2 separate regions of the Homo sapiens genome follow, and region 2 is linked to region 1. The links come from fine-mapping of genetic effects on gene expression. A gene starts in region 1. The other region holds a variant in brackets. All regions are shown on one strand. Distances are between the middles of the regions.

Evidence for each region. PIP is the estimated chance that this variant, and not a neighbour inherited with it, causes the effect.
Region 2: its variant is fine-mapped to the expression of SIL1 in stomach (GTEx, PIP 0.98).

The regions. Positions count from the first base shown.
Region 1 is chr5:139,194,846-139,203,809 of GRCh38, forward strand. SIL1 (SIL1 nucleotide exchange factor) reads right to left here and starts at 3,523. Exons shown (of 10, transcript NM_022464.5): 1 at 3,424-3,523. RefSeq lists a silencer at 3,199-3,728.
Region 2 is chr5:138,942,327-138,951,290 of GRCh38, forward strand. SIL1 (SIL1 nucleotide exchange factor) reads right to left here. Exons shown (of 10, transcript NM_022464.5): 9 at 8,845-8,964; 10 at 4,398-5,147. The coding sequence ends at 4,791. Among named protein-coding and RNA genes, the nearest start is that of LRRTM2, 71 kb to the left of the region's middle. RefSeq lists a silencer at 1,871-2,083 and an enhancer at 6,523-7,387. The variant T/TG (reference allele first, on the strand shown) is at 4,367.

The DNA of each region.
Region 1 (8,964 bases):
CTGAGCAGGTCAGAGTATGAATCCACAAGTATGTGAAAAAGAGAATCCACCTATTTCGAAAAAGGTACAACTTCCTTTCAGAGCCTTTTTTTTTTTTTTTGAGACAGAATCTCTCGCTCTATCACCCAGGCTGGAGTGCAATGGCACAATGATCTCGGCTCATTGCAACCTCCGCCTCCCGAGTTCAAGTGATTCTCCTGCCTCAGCCTCCCGAGTAGCTGGGATTACAGGCATGCGCCACCACGCCCGGCTAATTTTGCATTTTTAGTAGAGACGGGGTTTCTCCATGTTGGTCAGGCTGGTCTTGAACTCCCGACCTCAGGTGATCCACCCACCTCAGCCTCCCAAAGTGCTGGGATTACAGGTGTGAGCCACCGCACCCGGCCAGAGACTCTCATGTTCTTTTGAATATTCTCATTAACGGCAAATCTTCATTCTTTGAGGGTGAAAACATTTATTGCATTCCTATGTCCCAAGAGCTTTCATGTGTAATACGTCATTTAACCACCCTTCAAAGTAAATATTATTCCCAGTTTTTTTTGTTTTGTTTTGTTTTGTTTTGAGACGGAGTCTCGCTCTGTCGCCCAGGCTGGAGTGAATGGCGTGATCTCCGCTCACTGCAAGCTCCGCTTCCCAGGTTCACGCCATTCTCCTGCCTCAGCCTCCTGAGTAGCTGGGACTACAGGCACCCACCACCTCGCCCGGGTAATTTTTTGTATTTTTAGTAGAGACGGGGTTTCACCGTGTTAGCCAGGATGGTCTCGATCTCCTGACCTCGTGATCCGCCCACCTTGGCCTCCCAAAGTGCTGGGATTACAGGCGTGAGCCACCATGCCCGGCCCTATTCCCACTGTTATGTAGTGGTACATTGAGCCCCAGAGGTGAAGTAACTTATCCAAGGTTATGTGGCTAATAAGTGGTAGACTCAGAATTAAAACTCATGTTCACCACCCTCCAAAAATCTGTTATTTCCACTTCAAAAGAACTGTTAACTCATCTGAAGACAAGGCAGGTGACAAGGTTGCTTACCCATGCCATTCGGGGTTAAATATATATAGGCTGTGTGCAGTGGCTCACGCCTGTAATCTCAACATTTTAGGAGGCCAAGACAGAAGAATCGCTTGAGGCCAGGAATTCAAAAACAGCCTGGGCAACACAGCGAGACCCTGTCTCTACAAAAATTAAAATTACAAAATTAGCTGGGCCTGGTGGTGCGCCCCTGTAGTCCCAACTACTCAGGAGGCTTTAGTGAGAGTATTACTTAAGCCCAGGAGTTCAAGGTTGCAGTGAGCTATGATTATGCCACTGCACTCCGGCCTGAACCACAGTGTGAGACCCCATCTGAAAAATAATAATAATAATAATACAGTATGGTTTAATATATTAAAGAAACTGATCTCTCGCATGGTTCAAAAAGGTCTCTGAAAACAATTCCAGAGGTGGATTTTCAAAACTGCCTTGGACAACAGCCAAATCACTTAGGCACGCCATCCTCAACTCCCACCACCTACACCTGCACACATCACTCTAAAGGAGAACATTCATTGGTGGATCAAGTTCCCACATGTCAGTTATTTTAAAATCCATTTTGTTACCTTTCAGTTTCACTTAATTAGCCTCTTCTCCTGCCAATGAAACACACCAGGGCTCACAGTTGGCCTCAGTAGAGAAGTAATAGCTGGCCTTCAGAAAACAGCAGGGAAGGGGAAGTAAGTGGGAATCAAAGTACTAGGCAACTTTTCATTCCTGGACTGCCGCATCCCTACTAACATTTCCATCACCTGTAAAATGGGAGCAGAACGTCTCTTCTATTGCCAATTTCATTAAAACAGCACATGTATTCATGAGCAGATTAAATTCACTAAACAAATGAAAGAAAGGGGAAATAAATGTGGTGTGGTAACACCATCTTAAAAACCCGAGAGCCATGTTCTCAAAACCACAGACCAAGTTCTGACCCATGTTATACAAATATCAATCCCAATATCGTTACACTCTGGCTCCCATCAAAATCCTACCCAATCCCCAAATCTGGCTATACTTTTATCAGAAAAGAAAAAAACTTGGGTGGGGTGAGAGCAGAAAAGACACACACACACAACAAAATATCTTTCACAATGTCAAAAAAAAACCTGTTTATATGCCAGGCGAGGTGGCTCATGCCTGTAATCCCAGCACTTTGGGAGGCCGAGGTAGACAGATCACCTGAGGTCAGGAGTTCGAGACCAGCCTGATCAACATGGAGAAACCCTGTCTCTATTAAAAATAGAAAATTAGCCGGGCACGATGGCGCATGCCTGTAATCCCTGCTAATCGGGAAGGTGAGGCAGGAGAATCGCTTGAACCTGGGAGGCGGAGGTTGCTGTGAGTCGAGATGGCACCATTGCACTCCAGCCTGAGAAACAAGAGCGAAACTCCGCCTCAAAAAAAAAAAAAAAAAAAAAAAACTGTTTATAAACACATCACTTTCTTCTCTTAGCAAATATGTAAGTTTCATTCTCCTCCTGTCTACTTAGTTTGGGTTAACTTAACCCCCGCCCCATCTCTCAGATCATGTTTTTATTTAGGTTTATTGAGGTGGGAAAGCCAACTGAACTTTAAACGAAGCCAGGCATTTAAGAATATTAGAAAACTGATCTTACATATATAGGTAGTCAAATATTTTTAAAAGACATCAAATGGCATTCTAATTCCTCCGGTGCAAAGAAAGCCCCAGCCTCACACGTGTTAGCATTTCCTGATTCCTGGCTTTTCCCACTCAGAGCCCCATTCCAGGGGCTCATATGTCAAGTCATTCTCTCCTGACTTCTGAAGCAGGGATTTTCAAAGCCAGGATTCCGGGACCACCTGAATGAGAACCCCCTGGGGTACAGCTGCCCACGCACCATCTTATCGGAAATCCCAGGGAATGGAGCCCAAGGCTTATGCACAAAGCCCCTAGACGATCCGAGAGATAACACTAACCAGTCTGTAACCTCTAAAGGCAAATTTTCCAGGACAAAGAAAAACAAGCAATAAGAGAGTGACAATAATTCCACATGGGAAGAGACACACGGGTCTCGGAGATCAACACCAAACCACCCCTTCTTCGGACAGATACGGAAACTTAGGCTGGGAGAATGAAACAGGCAAGGGCACTAAAAACAGGTGCGGAGCCAAAGCCAATCTCAAATTTCCACGGCCCCATCTCCTGCCAATAAAGAGGTGAATGGAGACATTCTGAGTGGGAAAGATAAGAAAGGTAGGCCTTCGGCAGGGAGCCCCGGGCCCACTTGGACGTCCCGCTTTGGAGACACTAGTGAGGATGTGTGGGTCCCCAGAACACTGCTGGGAAGGCGCCGAGGCCGCCGGCAGGAGGAGGCCCAGGAAGCGCCCTGAGCCCCCCGCCCAGCTCCAGGGCCGGGCGGCCCTCACCGCCCCTACCTTCGGCCTCCGGCAGCCGAGTGGCAGACACAACTCCCACAATTCCAGGCGGCCGCGGCGGCGACCAGCTCCCCCTGCGCAAACGCGGCGGCGACCGTCTGAGCCGGTGAGCTGGCAGCTGTCACGCCGCTCGCGGCCTCGCCCAATCGCGGGCCGCCAGACCAGCGCGCGGCGCCCCCCGCCCCGCACCGAGGTGGGAGCCCCGCCCCTAGCCCCGCCCTCTGCAGACTCTTGCACGAGCTGCCCCCGTGCCCCTCCCCTTGGGGGGAGGGAGGGCTGAAGAGATAGCTTCACGCCTGCTTTTGCTTCCAGGCTGGAACTGCGAAGTTTCCTGTCTGATTTTCCAACAATGTAATTTCTTTCTAGCGGAAGGACCCTCAGAAAGCAATCAGAGGGGTGCGGAGTAAAAATAAATCAAGTTCTTGTGACTCAGTTTGGGACAGAAGCCGAGAGTCTCCAGCAATAAAATTTCTCGCAAATTCATGCAAAATAGGACACCTTTAAGCCACTCACTTTATATACTTGTGTAGATTTTTTACAAGGACCAGTTATTTTAAAAATAGCATCAGGTGGCCGGGCGCGGTGGCTCACACCTGTAATCCCAGCACTTTGGGAGGCCCAGGCAGGCAGATCACTTGAGGCCAGGAGTTCAAGACCAGCCTGACCAACATGGTGAAACCCCCGTCTCTACTAAATATACAAAAATTAGCCAGGCGTGGTGGCGAGCGCCTGTAATCCCAGCTACTTGGGAGGCTGAGGCAGGAGAATCGCTTGAACCCACCAGGCAGAGGTTGCAGTGAGCTAAAATCGTGCCACTACACTCCAGCCTGGGTGACAGAGTGAAACTCTGTCTCAAAATCTAATAAAATAAAATAAAGGTCACTTGCGATTCTGATTTTTTTTTAAGACAGAATCTGTGTCCCCCAGGCTGGAGTGCAGTGGCAGGATCTTGGCTTATCACAGCCTTGACCTCCCAGGCTCAAGGGATCCTCCCCCTCAGCCTCCATCCAGTAGCTGGGACCACAGGCGCGTGCCACCGTTGCCAGGCTAATTTTTTTTTTTTTTTTTTTTTTACAGACAGGGTCTCGCTATGTTGCCCAGGCTGGTGTCAACGCAGTTGTAATTCTGCTGTACCAGTGAATATCATGCTTTCTGTACCAGGTGCTGCATATATATTTTATTTACTTATAACGTCCTCTGAGCAGAATGGTCATCCCCTTTTTATAAATGGAGAAGCTGACGCTCAAAGAGGCTAAAGGAGTTATACAAAGTCATACAGTCAGGAAGTGGTAGAACTGGGAGTTAAAGCTAGATTTAAGTGTCTCCAATGTCCTGTTCTCTTTCCACTATTCCACTTTTAGACCTTCCCCTTGCCTAGACATGCTTAACCTGATGAATAAAAATGACTGCCCCCTCCTGCCCTCAGATCCCCCACATAGTGATTCCTGGTCATTCATGAGTGGAGAAAACAGTAATCCAGACAGTTACCTCCCCAAATGGCAAGTATTTCCCAATAGCAAACAACCTATTTCTGGACTTCCCTTCCCTTTTCCATGTACTCTATGAGCTTCTAGCAGACAATTTACCTTCTTGATTATGTTTACTTCAAGCAGATGGGAAACTGACTTCATAGCCACTGAGCAAACCTTGGTTACTAGTATGGGAAGGGAGAACAAGCCCCTGGGCAGTAGTTCAGTGAATAGTGCCAGTTTATGAGAAAGGTCTAGATAAAACACCTAGGGCCTGATTTGGAAAGAGAACAGCTCACTTTTCCCCTGGAACACCCAGGAGACCAGTGAGAAGAACTGGGCCTAAGAATAATTCTAGCTTATGTCACTGCCTAGTACCATAAGTACAGATAATAAATATTCAACAAATATTTCATGAGTGATAAATTAGAGAATGAACATATAAATTATAATAAGACTGGCACGAGTTATAAAAAAGATGTTAATAAAGTGCTACAAGAGTAAGAGCCTTAAAAATAGAATAAGCTCAAATCTTATAATAGCATGAATAAATGAATGCTTGGGCCAAGAGAAGAGTCCAGCTGAACACAGCTGCCAGCGCTCAAAGCGGGGCCTTTCTCCTTGGGACGGATCTAACCAGCTCAGGTATGTGGTAGGAAAGGGATAGTCTGTCTCCCACTGCCACCCCAGGCCTGGTCTCCAAACCTTGAAAAGCTCTGCCATGGTCTGAATGTTGGTGTCTCCCCTAAATTCATACATTGGAACCTCATATCCAATGTGATAGTATTAAAAGGTGGGCAGGTTGGGCCAGGCATGGTGGCTTCCGCCTGTAATCCCAGCACTTTGGTAGGCCGAGGCAGGCGGATCACAAGGTCAAGAGATTGAGACCATCCTAGCCAACATGGTGAAACCCCATCTCTACTAAAAATACAAAAATTAGCTGGGTTTGGTGGTGTGCACCTGTAGTCCCAGCTACTCAGGAGGCTGAGGCAGGACAATCGCTTGAACCTGGGAGGTGGAGGTTGCAGTGAGCCAATATCGCACCACTGCACTCCAGCCTGGCGACAGAGCAAGACTCCATCTCAAAAAAATAAAATAAAATAAAAATGGTCAGGTTGAAGGGAGCTGCCTTGCCCCTTCTGCCGTGGAAGGACACAGTGATCTCCCCTTCCACCATGTGAAGCAAGGCAGCAAGGCACCATCTTTGAAATAGAGAGCAAGCACTCACCAGCCCCTAAATCTGTTGGCACCTTGATCTTGGATTTCCTGGTCTGTAGAACAGTGAGCAGTAAATTTCTGTTTGTAAATTACCCAGCCTAAGGTGTTTGTTATAGTAGTCCCAACAGACAAAGACATACCCTGACAGAACTACCTTCTCAGAGGAACTTGCTCTGAACTTGCTCTGAAATCAAGCCTCTTGAGTTGCTGAAGCCAGTGTGCAAGGTTGAACCTAAGCAGACAGCCTCTACTTACACGGCCTTAAGCAAGGAGGCCCACTGTAAAGGTGAGAAGTTTGGGTGCAAGTCCAGTGATCACAGTGGGTGCTGGAATTTTGGTAGTCTCCTCTCTTTGTTTCCTTATATAAGTCTTGGAATTGAGCAAAAGTAAGTTTAAAATTTCCTTTTAGGCTGGGCGCAGTGGCTCACGCCTGTAATCTCAGCACTTTGGGACGCTGAGGCAGGCGGATCACCTGAGGTCAGGAGTTGAAGACCAGCCTGGTCAACATGGCAAAACCCCGTCTCTACTAAAAAATACAAAAATTAGCAAACCATGGTGGTGGGCGCCTGTAATCCCAGCTACTCAGGAGCCTGAGGCAGGGAGAATTGCTTGAACCTGGGAGGTGGATGTTGTAGTGAGCCAAGATCACGCCACTACACTCCAACCTGGGCGACAGAGCAAGACTCTATCTCAAAAAAAAAAAAAATCCTTTTAAATAAGTAAACAACAGGCTAAAAACCACCTCTCTCTTGCAGTTCTGTTGGGGAGTTTCTAGAATCCCTCTTCCACTCCCCAGAAGAGCAAAGGAAGGCTTGGAAGGGTAGAGAGACTGAGGAATCACCTTCAACCCGGCCACCATCAATCAAATCAAAGGAAACCACAGCACCTACCCCCAGAGCCCTGGCTAGGCGGAGATTTATAATCAATTTGGCCTTCCTCAACAAGCAGAATATGTTGAGTAGATCATTTCTCCTCTGATCAGCCTTTCTCAATTAATCTCCCACAAGCCTCACACCCTGTTGTGTGAAAGTATTCCTGGCTTCAGGAGTTGGCTCCCTGCTCTCTCTGGATGGGCCTCAAATGTTGAGTGGGGAGCAGGAGCCCTCACTTTGTCTCACCACTGTATTGATCTGCCTCCTCCCCTCGGCCCCTTCCTCTTTGCCCACCCAGCTTTCACCACACAACTCAGATCCTGCTGCCAGGAGTCCCTTCTGGACTGCAGACATTTTATTCACTTGAACATGAGCACCAAGCTACATGCCAGCCATTGGCTGTGGGGGTACAACTGTGAAACAGTCCTACTGGTTCTTACCCTCGAAGAGCTCAGGGTCAAATGAGAGACACAGAAATGTAAACAGATCAAAACAGCCTGGCAAGCACCATTTAACAGAAATATTAACGGGCTAGGTGCAGTGGCTCACGCCTATAATCCTAGCACTTTGGGAGCCAAGGCAGGCGGATCACTTGAGCTCAGGAGTTCGAGACCAGCCTGGGCAACATGACAAAACCCATCTCTACCAAAAATAAAATAAAAAAATAAAATAATTAGCTGGGCATGGTGGCACATGCCTGTGGTCCCAGCTACTTGGGAGGCTGAAGTGGGAGGATCACTTGAGCCTGGGAGGTGGTTTCAGTGAGCTAAGATTGCACCACTGCACTCCAGAGGTTCACACTGCTGTCTTTTCAGATCCCTTTTGTGAGTAAAGCCCTTTCACATTTATCACCTTGTTTGTTCCAGACACCTCTGTGAGGTAGGTGGGGCAGATTTATTTTGCAGATGAACAAAAACTCTTCCCACTGAACTCTTCAGAGCTGTGTTGTCCAATATGGTAGCCAATTGCCGCATGTTGTTTAGATTTAATTAAAATTAAATAAAAGTTAAAATACAGTTTCTTATTTACACTAGCCACATTTCAAATGCTCAGTCCACTATACTGGACAACAAAAATGATGGAACATTTCTATGAAAAAGCTCTATTGTGGCCGGGCACGGTGGCTAACGCCTGTAATCCCAGCACTTTGGGAGGCCGAGGCAGGCAGATCACCTGAGGTCGGGAGTTTGAGACCAGCCTGACCAACATGGAGAAACCCCCTGTCTACTAAAAATACAAAAATTAGCTGGGCATGGTGGCGCATGCCTGTAATCCCAGCTACTCGGGAGGCTGAGGCAGGAGAATCACTTGAACCTGGGAAGCAGAGGTTGCGGCAAGCCGAGATCACGCTGTTGCACTCCAACCTGGGCAACAAGAGCGAAACTCCATCTCAGAAAAAAAAAAAAGCTCTATTGTCTAACAGTGCTTGAGAGGTCCTGAGAGGCAGTGCTACGGCAGGGGTGTGAAGCCAGAGCACTCAGCATTCCCAGAAAAGCTAAGTCAAGGGGCCAACATGGAAGAAGCAGGAAGCTAAGGGGCACTCCAGGGGAAATCAGGAGAACTGCTCCCGAACCAGATTCCTCCACTTCCTGGGCTGCACTCAGATGGAGTGGGCTGCTGTGGCCAAGGCAGGGCAGAGACCAGATGATCTCTACTGTGGGACCCAAGCAGCACCTGAGCAGCTTCTTCCTGGCATTCAAGAATTCTAGATCTCTCCACCCCAAGAGGCTTCAAGGACTCCAGTAACTGTGCTTTTCTCTGTCTCTGGCTTATTTCTGAAGGCCTCAGAAGCAGAAAAGGGGGAGAAAAAAAAGCATTTCCAGCCCCTCTGAAAGGGATGTGAGGGTTCTGGATGGCAGCCTCCCACCTGCTTGGAAGTCTTTGGCAGCTCCAAGGGGCTTAGGCCAGAAGAAGGTCAGTAAATTTAAGCTGCATTTGCTCTCAGCTAAACAAGCCTTTCTGGTTCAAAGGAAAAACACTCA
Region 2 (8,964 bases), 250 kb before region 1:
GACTTCTAACCTACAGCACTGTAAGAAAATTGACTGGGAATGTTTTAAGGCATAAAGCTCATGGTAATTTGTTAGCATAGCAGCAATAGAAAGCTAATACAGTGAGAGGCCGTGTTTCTCAAGGAATTGGTCCATGATTTCTTCTAAGTTGTCAAATTGATTTTACAATGTATTTATTTAGAGTTGTTCATAATACTCACTACTCACTATCCTTTAATGCTCGTAGAGCCTATAGTGACACCCCGTTTTCATCCGTGAGGCTGCTGATTTATGTCTTCTCTCTTTTTCAAAGGACCATCTTTTAATTTCATTGATTTTCTTTAGTTTTACTGTCTTCAATTTTATTGGTTTCCACTCTTTATTATTTCCTTTTCTTCTGCTTCCTTTGGTTTTAATTTGCTCTTCTTTTACTAGTTTTTAAAAATTACCTTTGCTTTCTTGGTGTTACTTAATTGTACACTTGCATCATTTAGTTTTAATAATGGCTGTGTTTAACAACCAGCTGGCCACATTCTGAACCCTGCGGCTCCCTTGTGTGAGGTTCCCAGGCCTGGTCAGTATCCCCCACCCAGCCTCTCTCTCAGCTCCAGGCTGTCTGCTGCTGCCTGTCAGCACCCCCACCTGGATGTCCTGCTGACATCTCCATATAAACATCAACAGGGTCCACCTCAGAGCCCCAGTCACTCCCCTGTTCTCCAAGCTCCCACTCTGGTACCAGCTCCTCCCCACGCCCATCTGCTCCATCCCCTCGACTCCTCTCCCCACACCCTGCATCCCGCCAGCAGAGCCCTGAGCTCTGCCTCAGCCCCATCTGGAGTCTGCACACTTCTCACAGTCCTATGTCTTCACCCTGCCCCACATCCTTGTCCAGCTGCCCCCTGGATGCTGCCCTGGGCTCCCTGCCCCTCCTGGCCCCTGTGTCATCTATTCTCACCACAACAGTAAGAAAAGGTGAGGCCGGGCACAGGGGCTCACACCTGTAATCCCAGCACTTTGGGAGGTTGAGGCAGCAGGATCGCTTGAGCCCAGGAGCTCAAGACAAGCCTGGAAAACATAGGGAGACCTCTACAAAAAAATGAAAAAAATTAGCTGGGCGTGACAGCTTGCACCTGTGGTCCCAGCTACTTTGGAGGCTGAGGTGGGAGGACCACTTGAGCCTAGCAGGTCAAGGCTGCAGTGAGCCATGGTCACACCACTGCATTCTAGCCTGAGTGACAGAACAAGACCCTGTCTCAAAAAGAAAAAGGTGGGTTACATCAGGTCTCTCCTCTGCACCCAACTCTCAACAGCCCCACCTCAAAGAAAATCCCAGGTCCCTTCCACAGCCTCCCCAGGCGGCCCTCCCTTGCAACTCCTCCCTCGGTCTCTGCCTGCTCCAGGCCTGGTTCTCATGGCTTTTCCTGAAGTGCTTTGGCCTGTTCCTGCAGGACCTTTGCCTCTGCTATCCCCTTGTCTACAAAGCACCCCCATGGCTCACTGCTGCGCTCCTGTGCCTGGCCCCTCCTCAGAGGCCTTCCCCACCACTGAGGGGAAACAGCAGTGCCTACCCCTCTTCCCTTCCCACTGGGCTCTGTCTTCCTTGCCTGGCCCTCCCCTGAAGCATGTGTATTTATCATGGTCCAGCCCTCTCCCCTCCTGTCCTACCACTTCCTGCCCTAGAACAGTGCCTGGCTCGTAGTACCCAACCAGATTTGTTGAACAAATGAATGAATAAGCAGCAGCCCAGAGAACACCTGCTAGGATGAGGGCACAGCCCTTGGCAGGGCTGACAAGCTGCCGGAGGACCCGAAATTGTGGATTCTGCAAATGGCCACTCTCTGGCCTTCCTGTATCTTCCCAGGGCCAGAGCCCTTGCCCTGCCTGCCCCAGACTGGCCCTTCCAACTGCCCATCCCTGACTGCTACTCCTGCAGCCTGCAGGGCTTAGCCTGGCCATCACCAGCTCTGGGAGGCCTTTCCTTGGCTTCACCCAGCTCAGCAGACTTCTCAGCTCCAACTGCCTGACACACACGACTGCTCAACAGCCACAGTGTGAATGAAATAATGAATGAACAAGTGAACTCATAAAACCACAGCTGCTGAGGGATGGGGTGAGGACCTAGGCCCACCACCCTCCCTGCCATCCTCCCACACTAGGGCCCGGGTCAGCCCAGCCCAGGAGCAGGGACCCAATAATCACTGAGGGCCTGTGGGTGTCAGCCCAGCACACCTCTCAGCCCATCCCAAGACAGTGAGGACAGGAAAGCAGGCTCCAGCCCCACAGGAGGAAGTCCCACCTCCCCCGTCACCACTCCCTGCCTCACTTCGAGCCCCGGTCACACTCCTTGACCACAGTTCCCAGGATGGCAGCCAAAGGGAAGGCAGAGAAGGGGTTCCTTCCTGACCTGCAGACAACAAGCCGCGATGAATCAGGAGGCGGAGCCAGAACCCACCCCCAAGCAGCCCAAGCCCAGACCCTGGGGCGCCTCGCCACCCTCTCCCTGGAGGGTCTGCTTAACAGTCCAGAACGAACCTGGATGCGGCCAATGAGGAGAGAGACTGCAGCCCAACTCCCATTCCGATGCTCTGAGTGTGTGAGGGCAGAGTGCACGCAGTCCCACCTCCCAGGCCTCGGGCTCAGCAGCCTGGCGCTGGTCCAGCCCCCTCCCTACAGCCCCCAGGTGCCCGTTCCTCCATCCTCGCTCCCAGAAATCCTCTCAAGAGCACCTGGCCCAAAGCCTCCCTCTGCTTTACAGAATCGCTGCTGAGGGCAGCACACCTGGGGGCAGAGGGGACACTGGGGACTGCAGTTAGGCCCCTACTAGTGGCACTCCTCCCATAGGGACGCTTTCCACACCCCGGGCCAGACCCTGGTGGTCACAGAGGCCTCCAGGGCCAGCCTGGTCCTGACACAGCCGAGCGCCCGGCCTGGCCTCCCCACAAGGCCCCACACTCTCGCCTGTCCACTGTTCCCACTGTCCAGCCTTGGTGCTCACCTCTGAATGCTGAAAGCCTAGAATAGATTCATCCCCAGCCCAGCCCCAAGTCCTCCTGTCTTCCAAGCCTCTGCTGAGGCAGCCCCTCTCCCCATCAAACCTCACCTTGCCCCTTTCTCAAGTCTACGCTAGATCTTCCAACACTACCTCTAAAGCACCCCTTGACCTTGGCCTCATCCAGGCGCTGGCACCTCCTGTCTGAAACCTGCCTGCCCTGTTGTGGCCACACATGCCCGGCCATTTCTCGTGGTCCTCCCTCCGCTGCCTGTCAGTTCAACATCGTCCCCTTCTTGGCCTCCCATTCAAGCCTCCCACAGCACCATCAGCACCGCAGGCCCACTGCTGCCCCCACAGGCAGATCACTTGGCCTCTCTGAGCCATGATTTCCTCATCTGTAAAATCTACTTCGAAGACTCCTGCGAGGCTGTAAAGGCAGCAGGTACCCAATGGCTGGCAGACTGCGAGTCTGTTCCCCACTCTGCCCTAGCCCTGAGGCCTCCCGCCCTGGGGAAGCTGTTACTCCAGCATCAGCCTGGACTCCTGCCTCCAGCCTGCCCTGCTGGGAGGGGCTCCGTGCAGGCCGTGGCTCTGCTCCGAGCTTCCTGCGTGTCGTGTTGCGGCAAGAGGCGAGCAGGAGAGGGGCTGAGGAGAAGAGCCAGGTGGCCAAGCAAAGGGACTGCAGGGAAGGCCAACTACTGACCCCATGTTTTTCTGGGCCTCAATTTGCCCTCAGCTCAGTAAAACTGAGATTTCTACAAGTGAGGCCTAGAGCCAGGGAGAGGAGAGTCCTGCCCCAGACTGGCCCTCCCGACTTTACCACCTGGGGGCCGGAGGGGCTGCCTGGGCCCGCAAGAGCAAGCCTCTGGTGCACTGGGAAAGCTGAGAAACAAACACACCAGAATCCGAGTCTGAAAAGCCCAGAGCCCGGGTTGCCATGGCAACCTGCAGCCAGCTCCAGCCCGGGACTCCGCCAGCCTGGGTAGGGGCCGGGACTCGCCAGGCACGGCTGCTCCCAGCTCTGAGGCCTCCTCCTTGGGCTTGGCCCTGTTTCTGCTTGGACACAGAAGTGGTGCAAGGCCACAGAGAGGCACTTCTCCCCTGTCAGGTGGGCCAGGCAGGCCTGGGCTCCCCTGGGCTCCCACTGCCAGCTTTCTCCCAGAGTAAGGCCTGGCCCCTGGGCCTCCAGAGTCCAGCACCTCTCAGCACCCCACCCCGGCACCCATTGCTCCAGCACCCATCACTCCAGCAGCTGTCAAGCCCATCAGCTGCCTGGGTCACCACAGCACCAGTGTATGGACAGGCCTCAGGCGCCGGCCAGGTCAGCGGCCTTGAGGCTGTTATGTGGGCACCGATAGAGGGGCAGTGAGATGATTCCCTGCCTTACCTCACAGC[T/TG]GGGGGGTGCCAGCACTAGTGTGAAGCTTTCTACGTGATTTTTCTCCTTTAATGGCACTCCTGACAGATGAGGAAACAAGCTCAGAGCAATTAAGCGACTTCCCAAGGTACAGAGCTGCTGCTTGGTAAGAAGCAGAGACTTGCAACTCCTGGGCCCAGGTTCCTGCCCTGGAGCCTGTTCCTGGATGCCCTGGGCTGAGCCCTGCACGTCAGCAGAGCCCATCACCCAACCACTCACCTGACCCCCCGGCCACAGGGCTGTGCCCAGTCTACACAGACACACAGCAGAAAGAGGATGGCCTTCAGGTTTCCATTTAATGGCCAAGCCAGCACTGCCAAGATGTCCTCCTGCCTGAGAAGCCCACCCACGCTGGCACCCCTCAGCCTCACTAGCGGCATCCCAGTCCAGTCCTGGTGTGGGGCCTCATCTCAGCTCCTTCAGCAAGCTGTTGACAGAGCCCAGCAGCTCCTGGAAGTAGCCCTCGTCCTCACCATCCTGCAGCTCCAGGCTGGCCAGCACCTGGTACTCAGCCTGCAGGCTGGCCAGTGTCCTGCCGAGCTGGGGGTCCTGACGGTAGCGGTCCCGGCAGGTGGTCAGGAGGACGCCCAGTGTCTGCAGCACCTTCTCACGGGCATCATGCTCGGGCAGCGCCAGGAGGTGGGCCGTGATCTCGCACCAGCCCTGTTCCCACAGGCCTGGCAGGAGGTGTACCTGGCGATACTGCTGCAGCTTCTCTGGGGACATCTCCTGGGTCAGCTCAGCCTCCTCCTCGGCGAACATCTGCCATCCGCCACAGCCGCAGGCCAGGTAGGGTGGGGGTGGGGAGAGAACACACAGGGAGCAGTTAGCTCACACCTGGCTAGCTCTGCCCTTCAGACAGGAAGGCACGAGGCTGACCCCTGAGGGCCCACCTCTTCCTCTATCCCCAAGTCTGTCTGTCTATTCATTCATTCATCCACCAACAGAAACACTTGTGTGGTGCCAGGTGCTGAAGAAACCACGATGGAGACATAGTCTTACCCTCAAGGAGCTTAAGGTCTAGCAGGAGAATAAAAATTAACTAATTCCCAAATAGCATAAATGTAATCTAACAGTGCAGCATGGAGGCAGACAGGCTGGCTTCAAATTCCTGCTCCACCACTGACTTGCTGAATGACCATGGCTGGCACTTAGCCTCCCTGAGACTCATCGTCATCACCTCCTAAGTGGAGAAACTCAGCCTGTCTGTAAAGCGCAGAAGCCCAGCTCTATCAGCAGAACATGGTGGGAGCCAATCCTGCCGGGCTACCAGCAGCGGGAAAGCCAACACCTGAACCATGACAAGCAGGCAGGTTACCTGAAGGTCAGAGGTAGAGGGTTGGGAGGGGGCAGAGATCTCCCGTGCAGCTGTAGGAAGTGTGCCTGTATGGAGAAAGAAGGAATGCCTGCCCTAACTCCAGGGGAGAATGAAGCACAGGGAAGATGCACAAGGCAAGAGGGAAGCCCAGGAGAAGAGGAGGCCACAGTGGACCACCTGTGCTTCCTGCGGCAGCAGGAAGTCGTGGGGCTGATTGGGGCTGGCAGAGGAAACTGAGGAGGGGTGCAATCCTGCATCCTGGGACAGGAGAGGCTGAGAGGTATCCCCTAGTCCTTTCCTACTTCACCCCTCAGTCCTGCCAGCTTCGCTTCCAAAACACACCCCAATTCTGTCAGCTCCACCTTTGTCCCTTGTGTCCTGCGATCCAGTGCCTCCTGCTCTCACCCTCTCCTCCAGCCCCCAAACCCTCACAGCCTGGCATTGCGGGTGATAAAGACAAAATCAATCCCTTCCCTGGGACTGCGAGGCTCTGCAGGCTCTGCCCCCACTGTGCGCGGCCTGGACCCACTCACACCCACTCCTGTCACTCTAACTCTCCCCTGGGGCCTCTGGAGGCGCAGCTCCGACTTCCAGGTGCACCCCCGCATTGGCCCCATTCACTCCACGGCTCCCTGCACACCTCACCGCCACTGACCGGCCTCCCCTGACTGGCCTTCTCTGCTTATATGCTGCTGTGGTTTGAGTGTGTTCCCTAAAAGTTCAAGTGTTGGAAGCTTAATTCCCAAGGCAGCAGTATTGAGAGGAGCTGCCTAGGTCAGGAGGGCAGCGGGTTCCTTACGGGAGAGCGGTTGTTATTCTAGAGAGCAAGCCCGGCCCAGCATGCTTTTTTCCGCAAGTGCTCTTGCCCTCTCACCTTCCACAATGTTGTCATGCAACACAAAGGCTCCCGCCAGATGCACCCACCCAATCGTGGATTTCCCAGCCTCCCGAATCATGAGCCAAAAACTGCCTTTTCTTTATATTATCCAGTCCCGGGTATTCTGTTAAAGCAGCAGCAGACAGACTACAACACAAGCTCAGGGGAATTCTCTGATAAACATCTGCCTGAAAGCTCAGGGACGACAGGGACTGCGGATTATTTTCCCAGCACCCGGCACAGCAGGCAGCACAGGCAGGCAGGGTCCCCCTGCGGCCCTTCAGCTCCTCAGATGCACCAGAGGCCATGGAATCCAAACCCCAGGCAGGCATCTCACCACTGCAGAAGCCCAGATGTCAGGGCATGGTCTCTCAGTAGAGGTCCTCTCACAGGCCAAGGTACATATGAGGACTGCCTGGGGCCTGGCAGACCCCAGCACCCTGATGGGGGTGTCACATTGCCCATGGGAATTCCACAGTCCTTGGCTGTCATGACAACATGCTGCAGTGATCCCCGAGCTGCATGGCACCCCTCCATCGTGGTGGACAGCTCATGTCCCTCCACCTTCAGGCAGCTCTGGACCCACCCCTAGCTTGGCTAGGTCTTCATTCTTAAGCGCTGCAAGAGGCTGGACTTAGTGACTCACGCCTATAATTCCAATACTTTGGGAAGCTGAGGCAGGACTGCTTGAGCCCAGGAGTTCAAGACCAGCCTGAGCAACATAGTGAGACCCTGTCTACAAAAAACGAACAAAATTAACCAGGCATGGTGGCATGGACCTGTAGTCCCAGCTACTCAGGGGGCTGAGGTGGGAGGATCACTTGAGTCTGGGAGGCAGAGTTTACAGTGAGCCAAGATCGTGCCACTGGGTGACAGAGAGAGACCCTGTCTCAAAAAAAAAAAAAAAAAAGAAAAAAGAAAAGAAAAGAAAAAAGAAAAAAGAAATCACAAGAACAGAGAAGCCCTGACTGCCTCAGCCCAAGTACAGTGTGTCCTAAATCTCTCTGGCTGAAATTTATCTGCTGTCCTCCCTGAAAGAAGAGGGCCATTTCTGTACTGTTTGTAGAGAGATGCCAGTCCTCCCCTCCCCAATCATGTCAGCACCCCAAAGCTTCCAGAGGCAGGCTCCCGGGGCCGGCAGCCTCGGGGCAGCCTTGGTGAGCCTGCCTGGTGGTAGTGTGCTAGCAATGTGTCAGTGCCATAGTGCCCAGGATGCCAGGGCTGGGGGCAGCAGGGACACACACCCAAGACACCAGAGAACAGAGCCCAGTTTCCCTGGGAAATGCCCAGCCAGCTGACATGTCCTTCTCCAGGCTCACTGGCCCAGTCCCAGAACCTGAACTGTGCCCAGGCCTTATCAATTGGATCTGAGCACCACATGGCTGCCTGCTGTTCTAAGAAACTGGATTTCTGCAGCTTTAACAAGAGAAGAGAGAGAAACAGGCAAAGACAGAGAGTTGGGGAGAGACAGTGATGGACAGAGGTGGCCACAGCCATCCCGACACTGCCTGGGAGAGAAGGCCTGGGGGAGGCGTGTGCAGAGGGAGTGAGGGGCCCAGCCTCCACCATTCGGCAGCAGTTCCAGCGGCTGCCCAGCCCTGCTCCACTAGTCGGCATGCGGCTCTTCTGGGGAGCGTGTGGCCCGAGAGAGGCAACTGAGGAAGCCCTGCCAATGCTCTCTGCAGTAGCTGAATTAAGAATCCAGGCCTGGCTGGTTTTCCTCTCTCCTCCTTAATTAAGATGCTTCTTCAAGCTTGCAAACAGGGCTGGGCACCAAGTCTCCTCCCAAGTGGCAAGCAATTGGGTCCCTGAGACTCTCAAGGGCAGCCACTCTGAGGCCCTGCCCAGAGCCAAAGCTCACAGAGGAGGCACCTCCACGTTTCTAGAATCCGAAGAGTGAGTGCCATTCGAAGGAGCTCTGGGCTGTTCTACCCCCTCAGCCTTTTGTCCCCTCGGGGCCTGGTCTCGGCTGCTCCAAGGCTTGCCTCATACTGAGCCCTCTGCCTGCACACTTGGCCGTGACCATGGCTGGCAGGGCCACCTCCCACTCCTCATCAGCCCTCAGGTTTCAGCTTAGCCACCACATCTCACATGACATACTCCCTGACGTCCCCAATCTCTTCCAACTGTCTGTCTGTCCATCCATCCAGAAGCACACACAAAGCAAACAAGTGACGTCCGCAGTCTCTTCCATCTGTCTGTCCATCCACCCAGAAGCACACACAAAGCAAACAAGAGGAGACTGGGTGGGCCTGGGCACTCACCTTCTCCGTGACCAGGTCGTAGAGCAGTGTGACCACGCGCACGGCGAGCACCTCCGTGCCCTTCTCCTGCACCAGGGTCCTCAGGACCTGCAGCCCCCCGAGCTTCAGGAACTGCCGCTG